Linked DNA regions of Homo sapiens: all the other regions are linked to region 1. The links come from fine-mapping of genetic effects on gene expression. A gene starts in region 1. Each other region holds a variant in brackets. All regions are shown on one strand. Distances are from middle to middle. Region 1 holds the start of RAB3IP (RAB3A interacting protein). Region 2 overlaps RAB3IP (RAB3A interacting protein). Region 3 overlaps RAB3IP (RAB3A interacting protein).

Evidence for each region.
Region 2: its variant is fine-mapped to the expression of RAB3IP in unexposed skin (GTEx, PIP above 0.99).
Region 3: its variant is fine-mapped to the expression of RAB3IP in whole blood (TOPMed, PIP above 0.99).

The regions. Positions count from the first base shown.
Region 1 is chr12:69,735,500-69,743,525 of GRCh38, reverse strand. It overlaps RAB3IP (RAB3A interacting protein), which reads right to left and starts at 4,666. Exons shown (of 11, transcript NM_022456.5): 1 at 4,495-4,666. It overlaps LOC101928002 (a long non-coding RNA gene), which reads left to right and starts at 4,976. Exons shown (of 4, transcript NR_110072.2): 1 at 4,976-5,248. RefSeq lists a silencer at 4,089-4,918.
Region 2 is chr12:69,792,337-69,800,362 of GRCh38, reverse strand. RAB3IP (RAB3A interacting protein) reads right to left here. Exons shown (of 11, transcript NM_022456.5): 5 at 5,849-5,926; 6 at 5,019-5,222; 7 at 26-154. Among named protein-coding and RNA genes, the nearest start is that of MYRFL, 29 kb to the left of the region's middle. The variant G/A (reference allele first, on the strand shown) is at 3,253.
Region 3 is chr12:69,805,865-69,813,890 of GRCh38, reverse strand. RAB3IP (RAB3A interacting protein) reads right to left here. Exons shown (of 11, transcript NM_022456.5): 9 at 1,014-1,113; 10 at 858-927. Among named protein-coding and RNA genes, the nearest start is that of MYRFL, 15 kb to the left of the region's middle. The variant G/C (reference allele first, on the strand shown) is at 3,270.

The sequences.
Region 1 (8,026 bases):
TGTAAAGCACAACATAAATGTATGATTTTATAAAGATCTAAGAAAGAAAAAAATGTAATGGGGGAAATAGCAAAAGCATACTGAGGGGTTTGTCTTACAAATCAGAAGGTATCTTTATTTATCTTAGGTAAAAGGAAAGAAAGGGAAAACTAGTCTTTATGAGGCATGTAGTTCAAATATGATTCTTTTCCCCACAGGGAATTGATACAAATTTGCTTATTGTTTTTTCAAACTTATTTTGGTTTTTCTTTTATACTTTATCCTTATCTGACAACCAGATGCTCCCAAACAAATATTCAATACTATTACTTTTATCTGGGCATATCAAATTACAATTCACTTATTTAAGTGGTTCTAAGCTATCATCTATATGCTCCTTTATGCTCATAGGGCATTCTCACATTCTTGAATAGTTTCTTCATACTAAGCTGTCAATTCATATACTTATTTGTGTATGTATCCATACCCCTCAGAGGAATTTCATCAACTGCCATTATGATTATATTTACAATCCTACTGTTAACGACAAGCATCAAATCTTTCATGAACTTGAACTATTTGAATAATTTTCATTCTTTTTCCTCTAAGTAATATCAGTTTACGGCTATAGTTATCTAATTTCGTGTTGCCCTATATTCTAAGATAAATCAGATTACTTTTTCCACTTTTCTCTAACCATGACTATGTACGATGTAAGCTTATAAAACTACCTCATTTAGTGGTAAGTTGAAAAGGAAAGCAGAAGGGAAAATAGAGATAGCAAGTTAATGCTCCCAGTTGTATAAATATCTTCCTCTTCCTTCCTTTGTCCCTTCATTTCTCAATGTTCATTTCAATTTCTACTGCTAGAGCAGCTTCAAAACATCCTAACATTCTTCAACTGATCATCCATCACCAAACACAGCACAGTACTTACCTGGCCCGATGTTAAAGCTATAAAATGAGGTAAGCCCTACTCTCGAAGCACTTGTAGACTAGAGGAAGAGACCACCTTGCCAATAAACATGTTTCTAGGGCCCTAGAAACAATTACAAATACAACACAAATATCAAAGTTCATAAATACCAAAAAAGAGGTACTCAGTATTATAAAAGCATAAAATTTTTAAAAAGAGTACCATCTGGTACAACTAAGGATAGTAGCATAAAAAAGGAGAAACAAGCTAGAAAGCAGTTTACAAAAGCTCAGATATTTTGTTTTTAGGATATCAAATGCGTAGTAACCAATTTACTATCCTTTGATGAACTGCATCTTAATCAGAATTATATCGGAAAAAAGTTTAGTGTGAAAAAGCGTACTCCCTTGGAATATCTTCAAAGCTTTCCCTCATTACCTCAATGCACAAATATCTCTACCCACTATCCATCTGTCCTTCCTCTCCACTACTCAACTATCCTAGCACTTTGTCTTAGTTGACATTCATTAAAATATGTAAAGTGCGTTCTACATTTTGAAGAACTTATAAAAGATATGGGAATGATTATAAGGCCCTACCTTCCATATTCCTTAAGAACAGTTTCCTTTAACCCCTACTGTGACTTGCAGAGTAGATGCTCAATGAGTATTTGATTTAAAAAAATCTCTGGTGACACAATGAGAATTACATATTACATTAACATTACGTATCTCATAAAAGCTAAATTACAAAGTTCTTCAGCATTATAAGCTACACATAAAGAAGTGATAATGTAGTGATTATGAGCAAACAATTCTTTAGCATTACCACTTATACATGAAGAAATGACAGAGTGTAGTGGTTAAGAGCACAGACATGGAAGACAAACTGTCTGACATCTAATCTAGACCTGTCACTTAATTAACTATGTGACGTTGAGCAAACTACATAAGGTCTCAGGGTCTCAATTTTCTCAACTACAAAATAGGGATAAAGTATTATCTCCTCGCTCACTCTGAGAGTAAATGAGTATAAAGCTTACACCAGGACTTCGCTTGATAAGCACTAGACTTAAAAGTAACTGTAGTAGCAATGCTGGTATCACCGTCTTCAGAAAACTTGGATATTTTTAAACCAGAAATACAAATGGTAACACTTGTCATCTGTGTGCCTCCTTATAGTTACAAAGCTCTTTAATAGAAGGTGCAGACCAGGAATGTAAGAAACAAAAGCACTACGTTCCATTTTGGGCAGTCGGATACAGTTTTTAATACCGGCTCTGTCACTGGCCAGCTGTACGACCACCTACAACTAAGTAACCATAGACAAATTATCGCAACTTTCTAAGCCTCCATTTCCTGACTTGTAAAATTTGATAAACCACCTATATCCCGGGAATGTCCAGAGGACTGAGGAGTCAAGGTATCGAAAACAAGCACACACAGTGCCTTGCACACAATCAAGCTCACACTGGTTCCTTCTCCCCTTCCCCACATCTCTAATGGAGTATGTTATTAAATCCTCATCTTACCATTATGAAGTTCATATTAGGTTGAAACATAAAAAACAGCAGAATATTAGCAATTTCAACCTAATAGTATTTCCACTGACAAATGGAGAAAATAAGCTCAAACAGGTTAAATGTTTTACTCAAGGTTTTATGCACAGTAAGTGATGGAGCTGAACATTAAATAATTTTTCATTCAGCCAGCTCACTAATTTGTTCACTGACTCCTGTTGAGGAGGAAAAAAGTATAGTAACTACTATAATGCATATAAAACTACTGTAATCTACAAAGTATTTTTTCGTGCCATATTTAAAAAATGAGGGGGTGAAACATTTCTAAGAACCTTTCCATTTTAAAAATTATTTGTAGAGGATGTGTGTGTTGGGGGAGGATGAGAGTTTAGACAAAATCAAAGGTAAAGAATATTAAAGGAAACATATGGATAACTGCACTAATTCAAAAAGTACAATAGGATCTATTCAGAAATCCCACAAAGCAGCTAAACATTAAATGGCCATCCTGGTGAAAGATTACAAGTATTCAGTACCACAGATGAGTTGTTTACCAAACACAGAAGGAAGAGTTGTATCAAACACTTTGGTTCACAAAGGTATACATTAATATGTAACATTACTGTAATGGAAAAAAATGCAATGGCTTTTCATTTAATAGTTAAAAAATGGACTACTTAATTGTATAACTGTTTATTTCTATAAATTCCACAAGGGCTTTAGGATTAGATCACATAAGCCGCATCTGGAATACACTGTCTGTCCAAACATGAAAAGTCCTATCAAAATGCACAGTACTAGTAAATAAATAACAAATGATAACAGAACAAGGCCCCATAAAACTGGTGAAATATTTAACAGTATCAAATATTTACTACGATTGGTCTACAACCCTATTCTGCCTCTTTTCTCCTTGATTTGTCATTCAGCACTGGAAGAAAAAAAAACCTTCATGAACAACAAAATGAGAAAAAGGATAATGAACAAGAACTGGGTCTTTCAACTGATTTACAATGGAACAGTTTTGTTGTAATCCTCTTATGGGCCCCTCCTCCAATTATGCAATCATTCCACTGCAAGAGATTACAAGGCTTTTAACCCGACACTGAACGGAAGGAGTTGGGGTGAAACAGGAGAGTGTATAACAGGTAGCCTCCGAACAGGCAACATTTCCATGAAACTAAATTGCCTCTCAGTAATCAGTACTAACTAACTCAGCGCTCGTGTCTTTCAAGACCTTACCCTTTCATCTTTTTTAATCCCATAACAACCGGCAACTCTTCACATGCTGCGACTTCCACCCAGCATCATCACTTCTGGAGCCAGTAAGCTCGCGCTTCCTGGGCGGTCGGGGCGAGTTGTCAACGCTGGGAGGGCAGAGCCATGCAATCCCACCCGTGCAGTTCGTCTCAACTCCCCCGAACACAAGTCTGGCGGCACGGAGCTGCCTACTTGGGCGCGACTCCGGGCGCCTGCCCGGAATTTCCCACCAGGTTTCACCGAAACCTCCCGAGGGTGACCTCTACGCCTCAGCACGGTGCCTCGCGCGTAGTTTCCTAAGACTGGGACACGAAACCACCCCAGGTCCACAGCCCTGCCGCGCGGCGTCCGGTGTTGTGAGCTGCTTCCGACTTGTTCGGGAACTCTCTCTTCATCCTCTTCGCGACCGCGGCCCTCCGCTCCCGGCCGCGCCCGCCCGCCGCCAGGTAACCCGCTGGACTCGGGCTCCCTGCCCCGGGCGCGCGGGACCGCGCAGTTAATGTGTAACGCGCCCGTGCCCGGGGGAGGAGCCGCCGCCCGACGCCCACCAGCAGCCCAGGGGGCGGCCGGCTGACCCGGGTCGCCAAAGTCCCCCCCACACGCCGCCCCCAAGGGCCCGGAGCCCAAGTGCCCAGGCGGAGAGCGAGCTCACCGGGCCTGGGCATCCCCCCGAACCCCCGCGTGCCGCGCCCTGCACGGCGCCAGCACCTGCACCTGCCGCGGCCGCCCCTCCTGGCCGACTCGCCAGAGGCGGGCGCGCGGGCGCCGAGGGGGGCGGTGCTCTACGCTCCGGGCCTCTCCCTCCCGCGGCCGCACTCACCTGAAGAACCCACCGCGGCCGCTGCCGGCGCTCAGGGGCGCTCACAGAGCCGCAGAGAGCGCGTCCCGAAGCAGCGAGAAACGGAGGAGGACGGCGAGCCCTTTCCGCTACACTCCACGGCGGCGGGCTCACTACGCCGGCAGCCGCCGAGGGAACGCGGGACTGCGCCTGCGCCGGAAGCGGGGCCGGGGGCCGGGAGCCGGGAGCGGCCGGTCCTCACGGAGGGAGGGCGGGGTAGGGGGGTGTGGCCGGCAGGGGCGGGGCGAGCCCGGCATGGGGCCTGGGGGCGGACGCGCTTCCGCGCCCCCTGGCGCCAGGCGGGGCTCGTCGCAGGTGTCACGGCCCTGGCCCGAGGTTCCTCCGCGGGCGGTTTCCCTGGGAACCAGCGCGAGCCGGAGCTGCGCTCTGTTTCGTCGGGCCCGCGCTCTGTTTCGTCGGGCCCGCGCTCTGTTTCGCCGGGCCCGAGAGGCGGCCTCAGGTTAACTTCAAGCATGTTGGGCTCTCCAGGAGGGAGAAGAGGCACCTTTGCCGTGGGTTGAGGACTCCTAGAACCAACCTGAGACTCCGCGGCCATATACACCTTACGACGTGTGTGTGTGTGGCGGGAGATGGGAGGGGAGGAATCCTGTAGAACCCAGATCCCATCATTCCAGCAACTGCCAGAGCGTTCGAGAATGTCATGTCTGTACCTGTCTTCTCTCATCTTTTGTGCCAACTGTTTTATCAAACTTCTACCCCACTTTAGGTCTTCCAGGTAGGAAAAATACAGAAAGAGCCAAGATCCCAAAAATCAAAAAAAAATAATAATAATAGAGGTAGTCATAGTATGTGTCTCTATGTTTAGCAAAAGAGAAACGTGCATTTGTGTGATACACTTATTGAATAGGACCATCATTCTGGGTATTAATCTCATCTATTAGAGGCAGTAAAGAAAAGTAGACTATATGTATGGTTGTTGGAGTCAGAATTACTGGGCTTGAGCCTGCCACCTGCTAGCTGAGTGACCTTAGGCAAATGAATCTCTCTAGCCCCAATTTTCTCATCAGTGAATGAGTATACAGAACCTGCCTCACTGAGTCATTAAGAGTTTAAATGGCTTAATTCATGTAAACACTTTGCGTACTTCATGACACAGAGTGCCTAATAAATATTAGCTATTGTTATTATACCATTATAACTATTATCATGCATCTGTAATCCAGAAACCTAGAAAGCCAGTGTTTCTTATTTTATACCCCATCGCCAATATATCACCAAGTCTTATTCATCCTAATTTCTAAATAATTCTTAAATCTATCTTATCTGATATTCATTGCCACTAGAAATGACCTTTCTCATTAATGGATTCCTATTCTCCCTTACACCTCATAGCTGGTCATTTATTCATCAGACATTTTATTGCACTCCATCTGTGTGCCTCCTGTTAGACATAGGGACAGAGAAACCATTACAAAGTCCCCACCATCCACGGACTCAAACATATATAGGGAGACAAGTATGTCAATAGTAGCTACGTGAAATGAATAAATTAAATATACAGCAAACCACTTAGGCTCCCCAGTCTTGCCGTACTCACATACAACCCTGTATTTCCATATGCTGTTTATTTTTATGTCTTGATCTCCTACCTTTTCCTTGCCTTGCTAATTATTTGTTATTCATTATTTAGCCTAGACATCAATTCCACTGTGAACCCTTCCCTATTGTTGGCCACTCAGCCCTATCCCAGCCACTCCAGTATGGGCTAAGTGCCCCTACCAGGGCTTCCATAACACCGTATCTCTTTGTAACACTTATCACATAGAGTTATAATTGTATCTGTATTTCTCCATTTTCCTGGACTGCGAGCTTCTTGAGAACAGGCACAAGGTCTGACATGCAGTAGGACTGACTCAGTAAATGCAGAATGAGTGAATGGCATGCATGCAGAGTGCAGTCTTGGTATGTGAATGTTTAGAGGACAAGTCCTATGATATATTCTACATAAGACCTAAGACATCATGATCTATAGGAAATAGTAAGCAGTAACCATATATGCCTGAGTCCTGCGTTGGTCCATTTACAAATCACCTACCATCCATGAGGCTTTTTGAAATATACTGAAAGATGTTCCTCTTGAATACTTAACCTGTTAGCGCTGTTTGAGAAGAGTGATATAGATTGTTACCTATAATAATACTTCAGTGTTCTTGCAGCACAGAGACCAAGATACATTACAGAATATTAGACACTCAGAATCTCAGCCTACAAAGTATGTAAAGGGCTGTGAGCATCTTAAGTTTGATAGCTTACCCATATATAAAAAGGACAGCTATTTCACAAAATTTAAAAATGTGAAAGATTTGGATGGGCACGGTGGCTCATGCCTGTAATCCCAGCACTTTGGGAAGCCAAGGTGGGCAGATCCTTGAGGTAAGGAGTTCGAGACCAGCCTGGCCAACGTGGTGAATCCCCATCTCTACCAAAAAAAAAAAAAAAAATCAGCTGTGCATGGTGGCACACACCTGTAGTCCCAGCTACTTGGAAGGCTGAGGTGGGAGAATCACTTGAACCCGGGAGGCGGAGGCTGCAGTGAGCCGAAATCACGCCACTGCACTCCAGCCTGGGCGACAGAGTGACACCCTGTCTCAAAAGAACAAAACAAAAGGCCGCACGCGGTGGCTCACACCTGTAATCACAGCACTTTGGGAGGCTGAGGTGGGCAGATCACCTGAGGTCAGGAGTTCAAGACTAGTCTGGCCAACATGGTGAAACCCCATTTCTACCAAAAACATAAAAAATTAGTCGGGCATGGTGGCTGGCACCTGTAATCCCAGCTACTCGGGAGGCTGAGGCAGGAGAATCACTTGAACCTTGAATCACTTGAACTCGGGAGGCAGAGGTTGCAGTGAGCCGATCGCGCCATTGCACTCCAGCCTGGGTGACAAGAGTGAGACTCCATCTCAAAAAAAAAAAAAAAAGAGTGAAAGATTTTATAGTGTGCTCAAGGTTGCCTTTTTCTCTTTATTTTTTTCTCTTTATTTTTTAAAAATGTAAATTATACAATTAGTGTCAAATATAACGTATAAAATAATATTGCTTTTTTTTTATCTTAAGACTTTCTCATTTATACCTTGGGCCAGAAAAAAAGCAGATGAGTGCAAATATATAGACATTGTAAATTGAACAAACCATTCTAAGGTTGTTACCCTTAGTTATAACTTTTATTACTTGTTTGCCTCTGTTTTGTTTTCAGAGTTAAGAAAATGTATTTTCATGGTATTTTCCAGTTGCAAACTGACTTCATGTTAATGATTACATGAGTCTTGTACAAAAAACAATTTGATGCAGGTGGAAAGGTAGTTATTCTTCATTTTTGTGGATGGGGAGCTTAGGCCACCAGAGTTAGGGCCCTGGTGTTTGGAATGCAGGTTAATATCTTATAAACGAATGAAGTGAAAACATATTGAACTTTTGTGTCCAGTAGTATGGCAGACTAGAGGCTCTGGCTGATTCTCAAACCCAAAGCAATATATATAAATATATATAAAAC
Region 2 (8,026 bases), 57 kb before region 1:
TCCTACTAAAATGAAAAAAAATTACCTCACTTTTTGAGAATGTTAAACATGGAAAGATATCTTCCTGGTAGATTTTGTCTAAGAAAGGACACGTCCTGTCCATTGTGGGCTCATCCTTCCACAATCGGAATTCATTATACAAGGATAAGTCAGCCTAACAAACCAAAGGAAAACACAAAAACATGTTTTAAAACGTATAAACATAAAAACCGCTTTACAAAACCAAAACTAATTTAAACATCACTGAAAAAAAGCTCTTCATTTAAAATAATAAATTGAACCACTCTTGGTGGTTCAATACCTGGTAGCAGTTTTCCTTTTTAAAAAATACTCTCAAATAATACCTGGTAGCATAATACCTGGTAGCAGTTTTCCTTTTTAAAAAATGACTCTCAAATAACCAATTAGCCTTTTTCCAAGCATCATTCACTACCATGTTCAATAACACTACTATTATCCTCACTCTGAGCTCCTTCTCCCATCCCCACCAAAAATGCTGGAGTTCCTCTTAAGACACAGGTGGCACACTATTCAGAATATAATAAATGATGACAAGTCTTTTCTGAAAACAATAAAAAGGTAATTTGGAACCTAATTAATTATAGTGTCTGAATAAACTGAGACTGGCTGAACTGTGAAACCTAGTTTGGGATCAAAAATGACACTAATTGTTCTACTATAACTTGAAGGCATTCCAAAAAGAATTGTCAAAATGTTATTGCATAACCAACAGGATTAAAAAAAAAGAATACGTAAAGCCTTCTAAACTACCTTAAAATACAACATTTATTTAGATATTTTTGACATATTTTTGGCACCCAGTAACTACCATCTTAGGCATCAATAATAATCCACTGCTGGCACCTGCCTTCCTATTCACTCCTCCAGCTATCCCTCTCTTTCTCACCTCCCTAATAAATTTTCCCCAAGTATTCTTCCCTACAGATTCTCAGATTCCCTCAGTCCAGCTCAATAGCATCTGCTGGAATACAAAGTTGCACTGACATCAGCCACCCAAACTAGAGCAGTCTCCCCCATCCTACAGCTCTAAGCTGCTCTTCTCCAGAGGCACTGGATACACCATAAATGATGCACTGACTACAGCTACAGACTGCCTCTAGGATAGCTCAATCAGATGTGCAAGTAGTCTACAAAAATGTAACATAGAGCTGAGTGTAGCCAAGCCTTCCTACAGACTTCCTTTTAAGGTGTATAAGGGCAATCTCCATGTGAATATTTTTTTCAGCCCAATTCATAAATTCCTTGAATCAAAGCAAAAGCAACAGGATAAATAATATTAGCATATAAGCAATACTTACATTTTCAAATGCATTTTCTTTGTAAAGTTACTGAGAAAAAGGACACTTCCTCAATTCCATTTATCTTCTAAATAAGACTCTTTAATCTTTGTTCCTAATTCACTTACCTCCTGGCTCTAATAAGAGATGTCACATCTCCAATTTAACAGTCTGTTTAATATTAACTTCTCAAATGTATTTGTTCCCAACATATATTGATTTATATGAGCACACACTAATGACCTAAGTCTGTTACTCTTTCTTAAGAAAGATGCAAATTTATTCCCTATTTAATAAATGGTGCTGGGAAAACTGGCTAGCCCTATGTAGAAAGCTGAAATTGGATCCCTTCCTTATACCTTATACAAAAATCAATTCAAGATGGATTAAAGACTTAAATGTTAGACCTAAAACCATAAAAACCCTAGAAGAAAACCTATGCAATACCATTCAGGACATAGGCATGGGCAAGGACTTCATGTCTAAAACACCAAAAGCAATGGCAACAAAAGACAAAATTGACAAATGGGATCTAATTAAACTAAAGAGCCTCTGCACAGCAAAAGAAACTACCATCAGAGTGAACAGGCAACCTACAAAATGGGAGAAAATTTTCGCAACCTACTCATCTGACAAAGGGCTAATATCCAGAATCTACAATGAACTCAAACAAATTTACAAGAAAAAAACAAACAACCCCATCAAAAAGTGGGCGAAGGACATGAACAGACACTTCTCAAACGAAGACATTTATGCAGCCAAAAAACACATGAAAAAATGCTCACCATCACTGGCCATCAGAGAAATGCAAATCAAAACCACAATGAGATACCATCTCACACCAGTTACAATGGCAATCATTAAAAAGTCAGGAAACAACAGGTGCTGGAGAGGATGTAGAGGAATAGGAACACTTTTACACTGTTGGTGGGACTGTAAACTAGTTCAACCATTGTGGAAGTCAGTGTGGTGATTCCTCAGGGACCTAGAACTAGAAATACCATTTGACCCAGCCATCCCATTACTGGGTATATACCCAAAGGACTATAAATCATGCTGCTATAAAGACACACGCACACGTATGTTTATTGCGGCATTATTCACAATAGCAAAGACGTGGAACCAACCCAAATGTCCAACAATGATAGACTGGATTAAGAAAATGTGGCACATATACACCATGGAATACTATGTAGCCATAAAAAATGATGAGTTCATGTCCTTTGTAGGGACATGGATGAAACTGGAAATCATCATTCTCAGTAAACTATCGCAAGAACAAAAAACCAAACACCATATATTCTCACTCATAGGTGGGAATTGAACAAGGAGAACACATGGACACAGGAAGGGGAACATCACACTCTGGGGACTGTTGTGGGGTGGGGGGATGGGGTAGGGATAGCATTGGGAGATATACCTAATGCTAGATGACGAGTTAGTGGGTGCAGGGCACCAGCATGGCACATGTATACATCTGTAACTAACCTGCACATTGTGCACATGTACCCTAAAACTTAAAGTATAACAATAATTAAAAAAAAAAGAAAGATGCAAATTTATTAAAAAAAAAAAAAAAAAAAAAAAGAAAGAAAAGAAAAAGGACATAAACCCCAAAGCAGGTAAGTGGTATTCTAAGGAAAGATTCTAGTTTAAAGGCTGTAATTTAAACCATTTATTAAGAGCTGACTCTGCCAGGAACCACCGTAAGCACTTTACAAGCATTTAATCCTCACAACTGTGCAAGACAGATATTATGATTGCCATTTGTAATTTGCCGGAGATTGCATAGCAAGAAAGCAGTAAAGTCCGAATTCAAATCTAAGTGGCTTGATCCCAAAGCCTTGCACTGGGCATGTATGTCTGCATGCATGCATGTGTATTTTAAATGTTTACAGAAGACATGTTGCTAATGTCATAACTGAGTGCCCCATCATATTTTCTACAAAAACAC[G/A]GACATGCTTAATTTTCTTCCAGATTGTTACATATTTTTCTAAGACTTACACAGGTCAAATTTATGTAATTCCTTTGCCTAGTAAGACTTTTTGACAAGTTTTTCATGAAACATCAGACTATAACACGTACCTGAAGAGCAAAGGTTATTATTTTGAAGTTATATGCTGCCTATGCACATTTTAAGGGATTTCAAAAACTAAAAATGAATCTTTACCATGTTCCATGAGAAGACACTTATAATTTTGTTAGTGTAAATAGGGGGGAAAGTACATAATTACTTACACATACTGAGTAAGAAACACCAAAAATACAAGTTGTACCAGGCAATTAAAATTGCTATTTAAATTCCAAAGAATTAGAATTAAAGTTAGGACAAAGAAGTTTCTTAAATATTTAACAGAAACCAATGTGAATTTTGGATTTGGTTACATTCAGATTTAACCAAGTATTGAACTTCTCTCTTACCAGCATCATTTTTATTGATAATTCGTCAAAATGCAATTCAATTAAAACAGGTTAACATTGGTTATTCCATTTAATAAACTCCTGGCTTCCATACAAAAATTTAACAAGCACACACATTTCTTCAAGATTAATGATGGACTTGAATTTAACAATGTAAAAGATGGCTTCTAAGAAGAAATGGGAAAGCTTCATAAATTATTGATCAATCCTCTTAGAAATGCATTCTCACAGTATACAATGATTAAAAATTTTTACTCTAAACAGCTCAAAATATTTATATATTATTTCAGTTATCTTTGTAACATATCTTTTAAAATAAGACTATTATTATTATTATGATTTTGAGACAGAGTTTCGCTCTTGTTGCCCAGGCTGGAGTGTGATGGCGCAATCTCAGCTGACCGCAACCTCCGCCTCCCAGGTTCAAGGGATTCTCCTGCCTCAGCCTCCTGAGTAGCTGGGATTATAAGCATGAGATACCATGCCCAGCTAATTTTATATTTTTAGTACAGATAGGGTTTCTCCATGTTGGTCAGGCTGGTCTCGAACTCCCAACCTCAGGTGATCCTCCGGCCTTGGCCTCCCAAAGTGCTGAGATTACAGGCATGAGCCACCATGCCCGGCCCATTATTTCGTTTTTAAATTTTTAATTGTTATGGATACATGATAATGGTGGCCTTACATAGTTGTAAGTGTCTGAATAACAGACTGGCTGAACTGTGAAACCTAATTTGGGATCAAAAATGACACTAATTGTTCTACTATAACTTGAAATTTCACTTAGCAAAATGTCTTCCAGCCTTATGTCATTGTAAGGCTACCATTATTTCTATTTTTTTGTTGCTTAATTATCTAAATTAACTCTAGGACTCCCTTGCTGACATAAAATTCTCTCTGAATTTAAATAAAAGCAATGTATTGATCTTTAAGAAAATCATCTTATTTTCACATATTTCTTATATCCATACTTTGTAAGCGCACTCTAGCAATAAATTTTGACTAGCCAGATCATTAAAGCCACCCACTCTCCTCTAGACAACACATGACAGTTTCCTCCCTTAATGAAATACTGAGATTAAGAAACTTACCAAGTTTCCAGCAGGTACTCCAAGGTCAGCCAGGTAGAAAATGGAACTGAAGAATCCCTGAAAGCAGCCAGCTCTAGATAAAGCCTCCCCCATCTTAATACTGCATTATTTTGTACTAAAAATTTTGCTGGCAAAAATGATAACTGACACCTCAGTGATGAGAACTAACAAGTATCAACAGAGTCAGAGGGGACAGTCCTTGATGAGTTACCTCTTTGCAGTCTTTTACAATTGGCTGTATCACACTGAGGTCCTGATGACTGCCACTCATAGCACTGCTTGTGCTTTTATTTCTTGTATGCCCCTTTTTAAAAGGTGTCTTTCCACCTGGCAAAGGCTCCTGCGTAGGTGATGTTGGAGAACTGGACAATACAAGTGTCTTCAATGCAGCTACTTCAGCTTGAAGTACATCAATCTTGGAAAGAAATCAACATAGTCACATACATTAAATACGTTTCATGACATATGCAGCTAAATATTAGCAATCTGGTCAAAACACTTTCAAAGATGAAAAGTAAGTTTAATTTGTATTTCCTGTGGAGTAATAAAAAGAAACTAAAATCAAGTTTTTTGATGTTTCCATATGGTTTGGATTCATCTATTATTAACAACGTCAAATGAGCCTGTGAAAATTACCAAAATATCTAACATTTATGTGAATTTTCAAAATCCTCAAAATATAATAGCTTATGATTAGTTGTAGAAGTTCACTCCTAAAACAGTAAAATCTAATAACATTTAGGTGGCTTTTCTCAGTGAATTTAAAAACTAAGTATTAACATTAAAATGTGATTCTATAATCCTTTGGATAATTCATGTGATTTACAAGGTTTTAAATCATTTGGTTCTCATATAAATGGACACGAAATGTTTACTATTAATTATACCTACATAGTAGCTATTTTCTTCTATTTTTCTGTAGTTTCCAAATTGAAAACAAGCACTACTTTACGATCAGAACAAAATCCAACAGATGTTAAGGTATCTTTAAAACAGTTATCACAAATTTATTTTATACTATTAAGAGCTGCAAAAACTCACTTTTCCTTGTGCTTCTTTTAGCTGTTTTTCTGCTGTTGCCTGCTTGATATTTGCTTCTCTCACCATTTTATGAGCTTCCTGAAAAAGTTAACATCTCAAATTTTAGAAACAAAGTAGCATTTGTTTTCAAAAAGTTCTTGCCAAATGTTTACAATTGAAGCAAAGATATACTACCAAAAGTTAGCCTGAAGTTAAGTATTCAATGTCAACTATGGAAGCAGCAGTTGACAACAGAGACAAACTATGAGACATTAGGAATAGGTGCCTTCTTTTAGGACCTATTACCACTGAGGCAGCCAAGTTGAGATCAATCATCCGGATAGATACTTGCGTAAGGACTGTGAATGTGACGAAGGCAAACAATGACCAATGTGTCAAAGCCAACTCCTTTGCAGTCAGCTTTTTATAATGTGGTCACTATATATGTTCTTATTAGTCAAAGCAAAGACATACAGGAGGGACAAGTAAAAACATTAACACACCAATAATGTTGCAGTTTATAGTAATGACAGCTAAGAAGCCTTAGAGCTTTCAATAAAAACATTCCCAAAATTTTATTATGTGACAATTTTGTGAAGAGCAACCTAAAAAGGCAAATCAGTTTACCCTTTAATAGAGTTTTAATCTTCTAGTACCACAAATATGAAACTCTAGGTATTTAATTCCTTTTTATTCATATAATGTTTATTCATGAGACATTTACTCATGTCATCTCCTTGTGAGGTACTGCTCCAGATGCTGATTACGTACTGGGAAAGGACAAAGTCCCTGCTCTTAAGGAGCTTACATTCTGTTTATATGTATTAACCAAATAAAACATCGGAATAAGAATTGTGGGTTTTATTCTAAATGCAATATGAAGCCTTACAGTTTTTTTAAGGAAGACATGATCATTTTATTTTTAAAAGATTATGCCCTTGTATAGAATAATCCCTGTAAGGGATTAAGAATGGACTGGAAGCATATATAGGGTGCTTGAGATAGTGCCCCGAGATTTAAGAACTTACATTTTAGAACTTTAGTTTACAATTTATCAGAGGAAGGAAGGAAATGAGCTTCAAAGATATTTAATGAATAGTTTGACAATGGCACCCTCACTAGATCTGTCAAAATGCACAGTGGTAGAATGGAAAGGTGGAAGTTCTTTACATCAGAGTTTGACTGTTTGTTTCCCGTTTGTTCATTAGCTTTTACAGTATTGTAACACTGCAGTTTGTGTGTGCCCATGAATGTGAATTTGCAGCTTATACTAGTTTAAATAGGAGAATCTTTACTATCAATGATTTATAGCAAAATGATATTAACCATGAAGATATTCCATGCACTATTATTCTGGCTATCTTGGCAAAGTCCTTAAGAGCTGTCAAATTTAATGAGTTAAATATTCTCCTTTTAAAAATAACAAATGTTTCAGATTTGCTGAATTTTTCTGGGACAAGTGGCTGTCAACACAAAACTATCTGGCAATGTTTTAAAAATAATAAACACAGCTAATCTGACCCTTCAAGATAAGTAACATTTTAACTTTAAATGAAAAAGTAATTCATACTATGGAGAGAATAGTTGACTAAATTTTTGGAAATGGACTCTGTTTTCATTAATAGTGGATTATGCAATTTGTACCAAACCTCCAACGGAGAACGATTAGAAAAGCTAGAAAAGTTTTTTGTTTGTTTTTAAAATATGTTTGAAGGTATCTGAGAACAAAATAGTGAAGTAAACTTAGAGTAATGTGAAATTTTAGGTGACTTTTCCACTACAGACATAAGGGTTACAGTGAAAAGGTATAACATACATATAATTGGAGCCCCAAAAGGAAAGATGAGCACTAGACTGGGGCAGGATCAGTTGCTAAAAAGATGACATGCAGAATTTTTACAGAATTTTTTAAAAATTGACAAAAAACATCAAAAGGTAGACTCAAAAAAAGTTTGAAAATTTTCCATCACACTGCCCTTCCAAAGCTGAAAATGATGTAAGTATCACCTATACCAGGAGTCGGTAAACTTTTTCTGTAAAGAGTCAAACACTATGTATACATATACAGCCTCAGCTGCAACTCCTCAGCTCTGCTGTTGCAATATGAAAGCAGCCATAGACAATACACAAATTAGTGTGGCTGTTTTAATAAATATTTATGAACACTGAAATATACATATCATTTTGTTTTTCTTTTAG
Region 3 (8,026 bases), 70 kb before region 1:
TCAGCGTGACTAACTTCTCCATAGAATTAAGATTCACTGCTTTACATGATTGAAAGATGGTAGGCTTCTACCAGTGTTTAAGCAAGATAATATTTTCAGTGCCTAAAAAATATAAACAGGGAAATTTTGTAAAACTTTAAATACTAACTGGCACAGACTTGTCCCTAGCCTAGTATCTGCTATTTTTTTTTTTAAACTATCATTTGTGCTCGAGAGATACTGCTTTGGAGCTGTCAGGCCATATTAGTTTTCATGCCTGATATTTAAGATATTTAGCTATAAAATTGTATTAAAAATATTAACACACTTTCATGAGGTTGGTTCTCCTGGATATATCACCTGCACATTTCTGCTGATTTAGAATATGGCAATCTTTATTCCATTCAGAATTATCCTCATGACTGCTTTATTAATTCACACGCAAAAAGTAGAAAATACAGGGAAAACTTAATTTTGAGCTCCATGATGGTTTCCATCAATTAAAATAAATCTGACCACTTTGCTGGCCTACTCATTTTCATCTCTTAAAGAGTCAATTCAATGAGCTTAGAACTCTCTTCTCATTTACCATCTGGTTTATCATATACCCCTTATGAGTTAAAACTGACCCTGCTTAAAATTCAAAATTAAGAGTAAAATGAGGCAAATAAAATAATTAAACACAATATTTTTCTAAAAGACATTTGTTCCCAAATTCTCCACAAATTTTATTAGAACTATAGAAGGGATTCAATATAAATGTACCAACAATAAAGCTGATATGAGCATTACTACTATTCTATACTTTTTGTTGAACTTTACTTATACTTTTTGCTGAACTTTTATGTAAAGACTTATATTGAATCAAGAACACTCACCATCCTGCTGTTTCACGAGTCCCTGCTGAATGTATCGAATGTATGTAAAAAAGTTACATACAGAAGTGATCTAGGCCAAATGGAGAAAATGTCATGAATGGTCAAATGTCCCATATCAAAGCAAGCTTTATTAAAATTCATGGTTAAGTCACTTACCCTGTATCTGCAAAAAGGAGAAATATAATAATAGTTGCTTGAGTCCCCTAATTTAATTCTGTGTTTACAGGACTTACTCTGGCCAGTGAGAGCACATTTTCTGTGAAATAATGATAAATTTCAGTTTTTTGAAATGAAAAGCATTTGCCCCTACCTTCTGTACAAGTTGCCTATTCATTCAGTTAGATAACAAATATTTGAGAACCTACTGTGTACCAGGCACCGTTCTAGATGCTGGGCTAAAGTGATGAAAAGGACAAAGTCTCTGCCCTTGTGAGACTTACATTCTATTAGTAGTATAAGTTTAATGCCATAACATTAACCATGATTCTAGAAACAGAAACTAGGTGTTTTCCATGTATGTCCCATCTTGGAACAAATTTACAAATCAGTAATCAGCTGCAGGACAGCTCTCAGCTTTCCATCAGGATTTCAGCTTCTCAGCTGAAAATATCCTCATGATGACTGTTCAAGTCTCAAAGCATGTTATTGATAGCTTGCAGGGTAATAGTTTCCAGATGGGGTATTTGTTTATTTGGTTGGTTGGTTGCTCTATATGCATTTAATGTGGGACCTAGGGAGAAGTACAAAGGAATAAGCCACCTTATAAAAATACTGAATCTTAACAATCATGTAACAAGTTCACTGAATTTCACATGATCCTTTCTATTTGCATATGACAAAAGCTAAAATTTTATATGAGGGCTTTCTGGCTGGGATTAGGCTATCAACCTCTTGAGGGCAGGGACTTTGATTCATCTTTAAATGCCTGGCACACAGCACACATTCAATGACTGCTGAATAAGTAATGAGCCATCTGTTACCCTATGGCTCCATGAGATAAAGCTAGCATGTCTATCAGGCCGGACTTGCAGCAGCCCAGCTGTCACCCTAAGCTAGGAACCTGGCTCAATACAACTATCACTCCCCATCAATGCAAAATTAGCATAGCTCTAAGTAAGTGGCAAACAGCATTTTATATGACAGTATAAATTATATAGTAAATATATTAAATAACATTACATTTTAGCGATACAAGAAATATAATACAAAAGTGCCTTTGTATTAAGAAAACACACAACAATGTGTATTTGAAACAGGATAATTTTTGAGGAGGGGGCAATTCAAATCACAAATCAATTCCTGTCTTTTTTCAAATAGATATTTCTTCATTGTTTCTTTATTAGCAAATTCCTTTAATGATCTGTAACAATATTTAAAAGCACTAACTACTAGCTTGGGGAGGATAGAAGATACAGAAATTTAAAGCACAAAGTGTTGGAAGTCTGTGGAACTTCCAAAAGTATAATTTGCATAAGAGGAAAATGTGCCATTAAGCTGCTAAAAACCAATTTATACACTATTCTTCTGGAAACAGACATATGCCTGCTGGTCTACTGTTTAGCCTAATTTTGAAAGGGATCTGGTAAGGTGGCTTTAAGTATCAACTTTTAAAATAATAAGTGTTTCTTTTTTTTAACTTGTAAGTTCAGGAGTACAACTGCAGGGTGTGCAGGTTTATTACATAGGTAAACATGTGTCATGCGGGTTTGTTGTATATATTATTTCATCACCCTGGGTGATTCAGGAAGAATAAGTATCCATTATTCTTCCTGATCTTCTCCCTCTTCCCATCCTCCACCCTTCCACAAGCGGCAGTGTGTGTTGTTCCCTTCTATGTGTCCATGTGTTCTCATCATTTAGCTCCCACTTATAAGGGAGAACAGGCAGCATGTGGTTTTCTGCTCCTACATTAGGTTGCTAAGGATAACGGCCTCCAGCTCCAGCCATGTCCCTGCAAAGGACATGATCTCATTCTTTTTTATGGCTGTATAGTATTCCATGGTGTATAGCGTTTCTTAAAAGATCTCATTTCTAAGCTATTTTGTAAACTGGACACACCTAATGTATTTTTAGTTAAGCCAGGATTCAATGCAAACAGACCTCTGACCTCCAACTCCATTTTTTTCCCAAACATGCTACACTACATTAATAAATCTCTATAACTCTAGTCCCAAGATTTCAAATCCTTGTTTCCCATTTTCATGTGAGGATGTCAATATGTCTAAATCTAGACCGTAATCCTCTTCCACAAATCAAAGCCTTTTCCATTAATTTCCACAATCACTTCAAATCAGTCTTCCAGTCAGATATCTCTAACTCCTTTCTCCTTTACCCATCCCCCCACCCCAATCTAACTTTTCTTTCTTAAAATGTCACATCTTCCCTTTCCTCTCCATACACTGACCATCCTTT[G/C]AACGCACTTTGATTTGTTTCTAGGCCTTCAGTTGTTATGTATTGCTCTTTATCCAAATTACCCTTATGCTTCAAAAACCTAAACCAGTTTTTATTTCTGGAGGGTGGAGCCAAGATGGCCGAATAGGAACAGCTCCAGTCTACAGCTCCCAGCGTGAGCCACACAGAAGACGGGTGATTTCTGCATTTCCAGCTAAGCTTTGAAGAGAGCAGTGGTTCTCCCAGCACGCAGCTTGAGATCTGAGAACAGGCAGACTGCCTCCTCAAGTGGCTCCCTGACCCCCGAGTAGCCTAACTGGGAGGCACCCCCCAGTAGGGGCGGACTGACACCTCACACTGCCGGGTACTCCTCTGAGACAAAACTTCCAGAGGAACGATCAGGCAGCAGCATTTGCGGTTCAGCACTATCTGCTGTTCTGCAGCCACCACTGCTGATACCTAGGCAAACAGGGTCCGGAGTGGACCTCCAGTAAACTCCAACAGACCTGCAGCTGAGGGTCCTGACTGTTAGAAGGAAAACTAACAAACAGAAAGGACATCTGCACCAAAAACCCATCTGTACGTCACCATCATCAAAGAACAAAGGTAGATAAAACCACAAAGATGGGGAAAAAACAGAGCAGAAAAACCGGAAACTCTAAAAATCAGAGCGCCTCTCCTCCTCCAAAGGAACGCAGCTCCTCACCAGCAACGGAACAAAGCTGGATGGAGAATGACTTTGACGAGTTGAGAGAGAAAGGCTTCAGAAGATCAAACTCTCTGAGCTAAAGGAGGAAGTTCGAACCAATGGCAAAGAAGTTAAAAACCTTGAAAAAAATTAGACGAATGGATAACTAGAATAACCCATGCAGAGAAGTCCTTAAAGGACCTGATGGAGCTGAAAACCATGGCATGAGAACTACGTGACGAATGCACAAGCCTCAGTAACCGATGCAATCAACTGGAAGAAAGGGTATCAGTGATGGAAGACAAAATGAATGAAATGAAGCGTGAAGAGAAGTTTAGAGAAAAAAGAATAAAAAGAAATGAACAAAGCCTGCAAGAAATATGGGACTATGTGAAAAGACCAAATTTACGTCTGATTGGTGTACCTGAAAGTGACGGGGAGAATGGAACCAAGTTGGAAAACACTCTGCAGGATATTATCCAGGAGAACTTCCCCAATCTAGCAAGGCAGGCCAACATTCAAATTCAGGAAATACAGAGAATGCTACAAAGATACTCCTCGAGCAGAGCAACTCCAAGACACATAATTGTCAGATTCACCAAAGTTGAAATAAAGGAAAAAATGTTAAGGGCAGCCAGAGAGAAAGGTCGGGTTACCCACAAAGGGAAGCCCATCAGACTAACAGCTGATCTCTCGGCAGAAACTCTAGAAGCCAGAAGAGAGTGAGGGCCAATATTCAACATTCTTAAAGAAAATAATTTTCAACCCAGAATTTCATATCCAGCCAAACTAAGCTTCATAAGTGAAGGAGAAATAAAATACTTTACAGACAAGCAAATGCTGAGAGATTTTGTCACCACCAGGCCTGCCCTAAAAGAGCTCCTGAAGGAAGCACTAAACATGGAAAGGAACAACCGGTACCAGCCACTGCAAAAACATGCCAAATTGTAAAGACCATCAAGGCTAGGAAGAAACTGCATCAACTAATGAGCAAAATAACCAGCTAACATCATAATGACAGGATCAAATTCACACATAACAATATTAACCTTAAATGTAAATGGGCTAAATGCTCCAATTAAAAGACACAGACTGGCAAATTGGATAAAGAGTCAAGACCCATCAGTATGCTGTATTCAGGAAACCCATCTCATGTGCAGAAACACACATAGGCTCAAAATAAAGGGATGGAGGAAGATCTACCAAGCAAATGGAAAACAAAAAAAGGCAGGGGTTGTAATCCTAGTCTCGGATAAAACAGACTTTAAACCAACAAAGATCAAAAGAGACAAGACCATTACATAATGGTAAAGGGATCAATTCAACAAGAAGAACTAACTATCCTAAATATATATGCACCCAATACAGGAGCACCCAGATTCATAAAGCAAGTCCTTAGTGACCTACAAAGAGACTTAGACTCCCAAACAATAATAATGGGAGACTTTAACACCCCACTGTCAACAACCCCACTGTGTCAACACAGATCAACGAGACAGAAAGTTAACAAAGATATCCAGGAATTGAACTCAGCTCTGCACCAAGCAGACCTAATAGACATCTACAGAACTCTCCACCCCAAATCAACAGAATATACATTCTTTTCAGCACCACACCACACCTATTCCAAAGTTGACCACATAGTTGGAAGTAAAGCACACCTCAGCAAATGTAAAAGAACAGAAATTATAACAAACTGTCTCTCAGACCACAGTGCAATCAAACTAGAACTCAGGATTAAGAAACTCACTCACAACTGCTCAACTACATGGAAACTGAACTACCTGCTCCTGAATGACTACTGGGTACATAACAAAATGAAGGCAGAAATAAAGATGTTCTTTGAAACCAACGAGAACAAAGACACAACATACCAGAATCTCTGGGACGCATTCAAAGCAGTGTGTAGAGGGAAATTTATAGCACTAAATGCCCACAAGAGAAAGCAGGAAAGATCTAAAATTGACACCCTAACATCACAATTGAAAGAACTAGAGATCTGCCTGGCCAACCCGTCTGGGAGGTGAGGAGCGCCTCCGCCCGGCCGCCCCATCTGGGAGGTGAGGAGCGTCTCCGCCCGGCCGCCCCGTCTGGGAGGTGAGGAGCGCCTCCGCACGGCCGCCCCGTCTGGGAGGTGAGGAGCGCCTCTGCCTGGCTGCCCATCATCTGGGAGGTGAGGAGCGCCTCTGCCCAGCCGCCCCATCTGGGAAGTGAGCACCTCTGCCCGGCCGCCCCATCTAGGAAGTGAGGAGCGCCTCTGCCCGGCCGCCCATCGTCTGGGATGTGAGGAGCACCTCTGCCCGGCCACCCTTCGTCTGGGAGGTAAGGAGCGCCTCTGCCCGGCCGCCCCATCTAGGAAGCGAGCGCCTCTGTCCGGCCGCCCTGTCTGAGAGGTGAGGAGCGTCTCTGCCCAGCCACCCTGTCTGGGAGGTGAGGAGTGCCTCTGCCCGGCCGCCCGTCGTCTGGGAAGTGAGGAGCGCCTCTGCCCAGCCGTCCTGTCTGGGATGTGAGGAGCGCCTCCGCCCGGCCGCCCCGTCTGGGAGGTGAGGGGCGCCTCTTCCCGGCCGCCCCGTCAGGGAGGTGGGAAGCGCCTCTGCCCTGCCGCCCTGTCTGGGAGGTGAAGAGCGCCTCTGCCCGGCCGCCCCGTCTGGGAGGTGAGGAGCGCCTCTGCCCGGCTGCCCCGTCTGGGAGGTGAGGAGCGCCTCTGCACGGCTGCCCCGTCTGAGAGGTGAGGAGAGCCTCTGCCTGGCCGCCCACTGTCTGGGATGTGAGGAGCTCCTCTGCCCGGCCACCCCGTCTGGGAAGTGAGGAGCACCTCTGCCCGGCCGCCCCGTCTGGGAGGTGTACCCAACAGCTCCGAAGAGACAGCGACCGTCGAGAACAGGCCATGATGACGATGGCGGTTTTGTTGAAAAGAAAAGGGGGAAATGTGGGGAAAAGAAAGAGAGATCAGATTGTTACTGTGTCTGTCTAGAAAGAAGTAGACATAGGAGACTCCATTTTGTTCTGGACTAAGAAAAATTCTTCTGCCTTGGGATGCTGTTAATCTATAACCTTACCCCCAACCCCGTGCTCTCTGAAACATGTGCTGTGTCAACTCAGGGTTAAATGGATTAAGGGCAGTGCAAGATGTGCTTTGTTAAACAGATGCTTAAAGGCTGCATGCTCATTAAGAGTCATCACCACTCCCTAATCTCAAGTACCCAGGGACACAAACACTGCGGAAGGCCACAGGGACCTCTGTCTAGGAAAACCAGAGACCTTTGTTCACGTGTTTATCTGCTGACCATCTCTCCACTATTATCCTATGACACTGCCACATACCCCCTCCAAGAAACACCCAAGAATGATCAATAAATACTAAAAAAAAAAAAAAAAAAAAAACTAGAGAAGCAAGAGCAAACACATTCAAAAGCTAGCAGAAGGCAAGAAATAACTAAGATCAGAGCAGAACTGAAGGAAATAGAGACGCAAAAAACCCTTCAAAAAAATCAATGAATCCAGGAGCTGGTTTTTTGAAAAGATCAACAAAACTGATAGACCGCTAGCAAGACTAATAAAGAAGAAAAGAGAGAAGAATCAAATAGGTGCAATAAAAAATGATAAAGGGGATATCACCACTGCTCCCACAGAAATACAAACTACCATCAGAGAATACTATAAACACCTCTATGCAAATAAACTAGAAAATCTAGAAGAAATGGATAAATTCCTCGACACATACACTCTCCCAAGACTAAACCAGGAAGAAGTTGAATCTCTGAATAGACCAATAACAGGATCTGAAATTGAGGCAATAATTAATAGCTTACCAACCAAAAAAAGTCCAGACCAGATGGATTCACAGCCGAATTCTACCAGAGGCACAAGGAGGAGCTGGTACCATTCCTTCTGAAACTATTCCAATAAATAGAAAAAGAGGGAATCCTCCCTAACACATTTTATGAGGCCAGCATCATCCTGATACCAAAGCCGGGCAGAGACATAACAAAAAAAGAGAATTTTAGACCAATATCCTTGATGAACATTGATGCAAAAATCCTCAATAAAATACTGGCAAACCGAATCCAGCAACACATCAAAAAGCTTA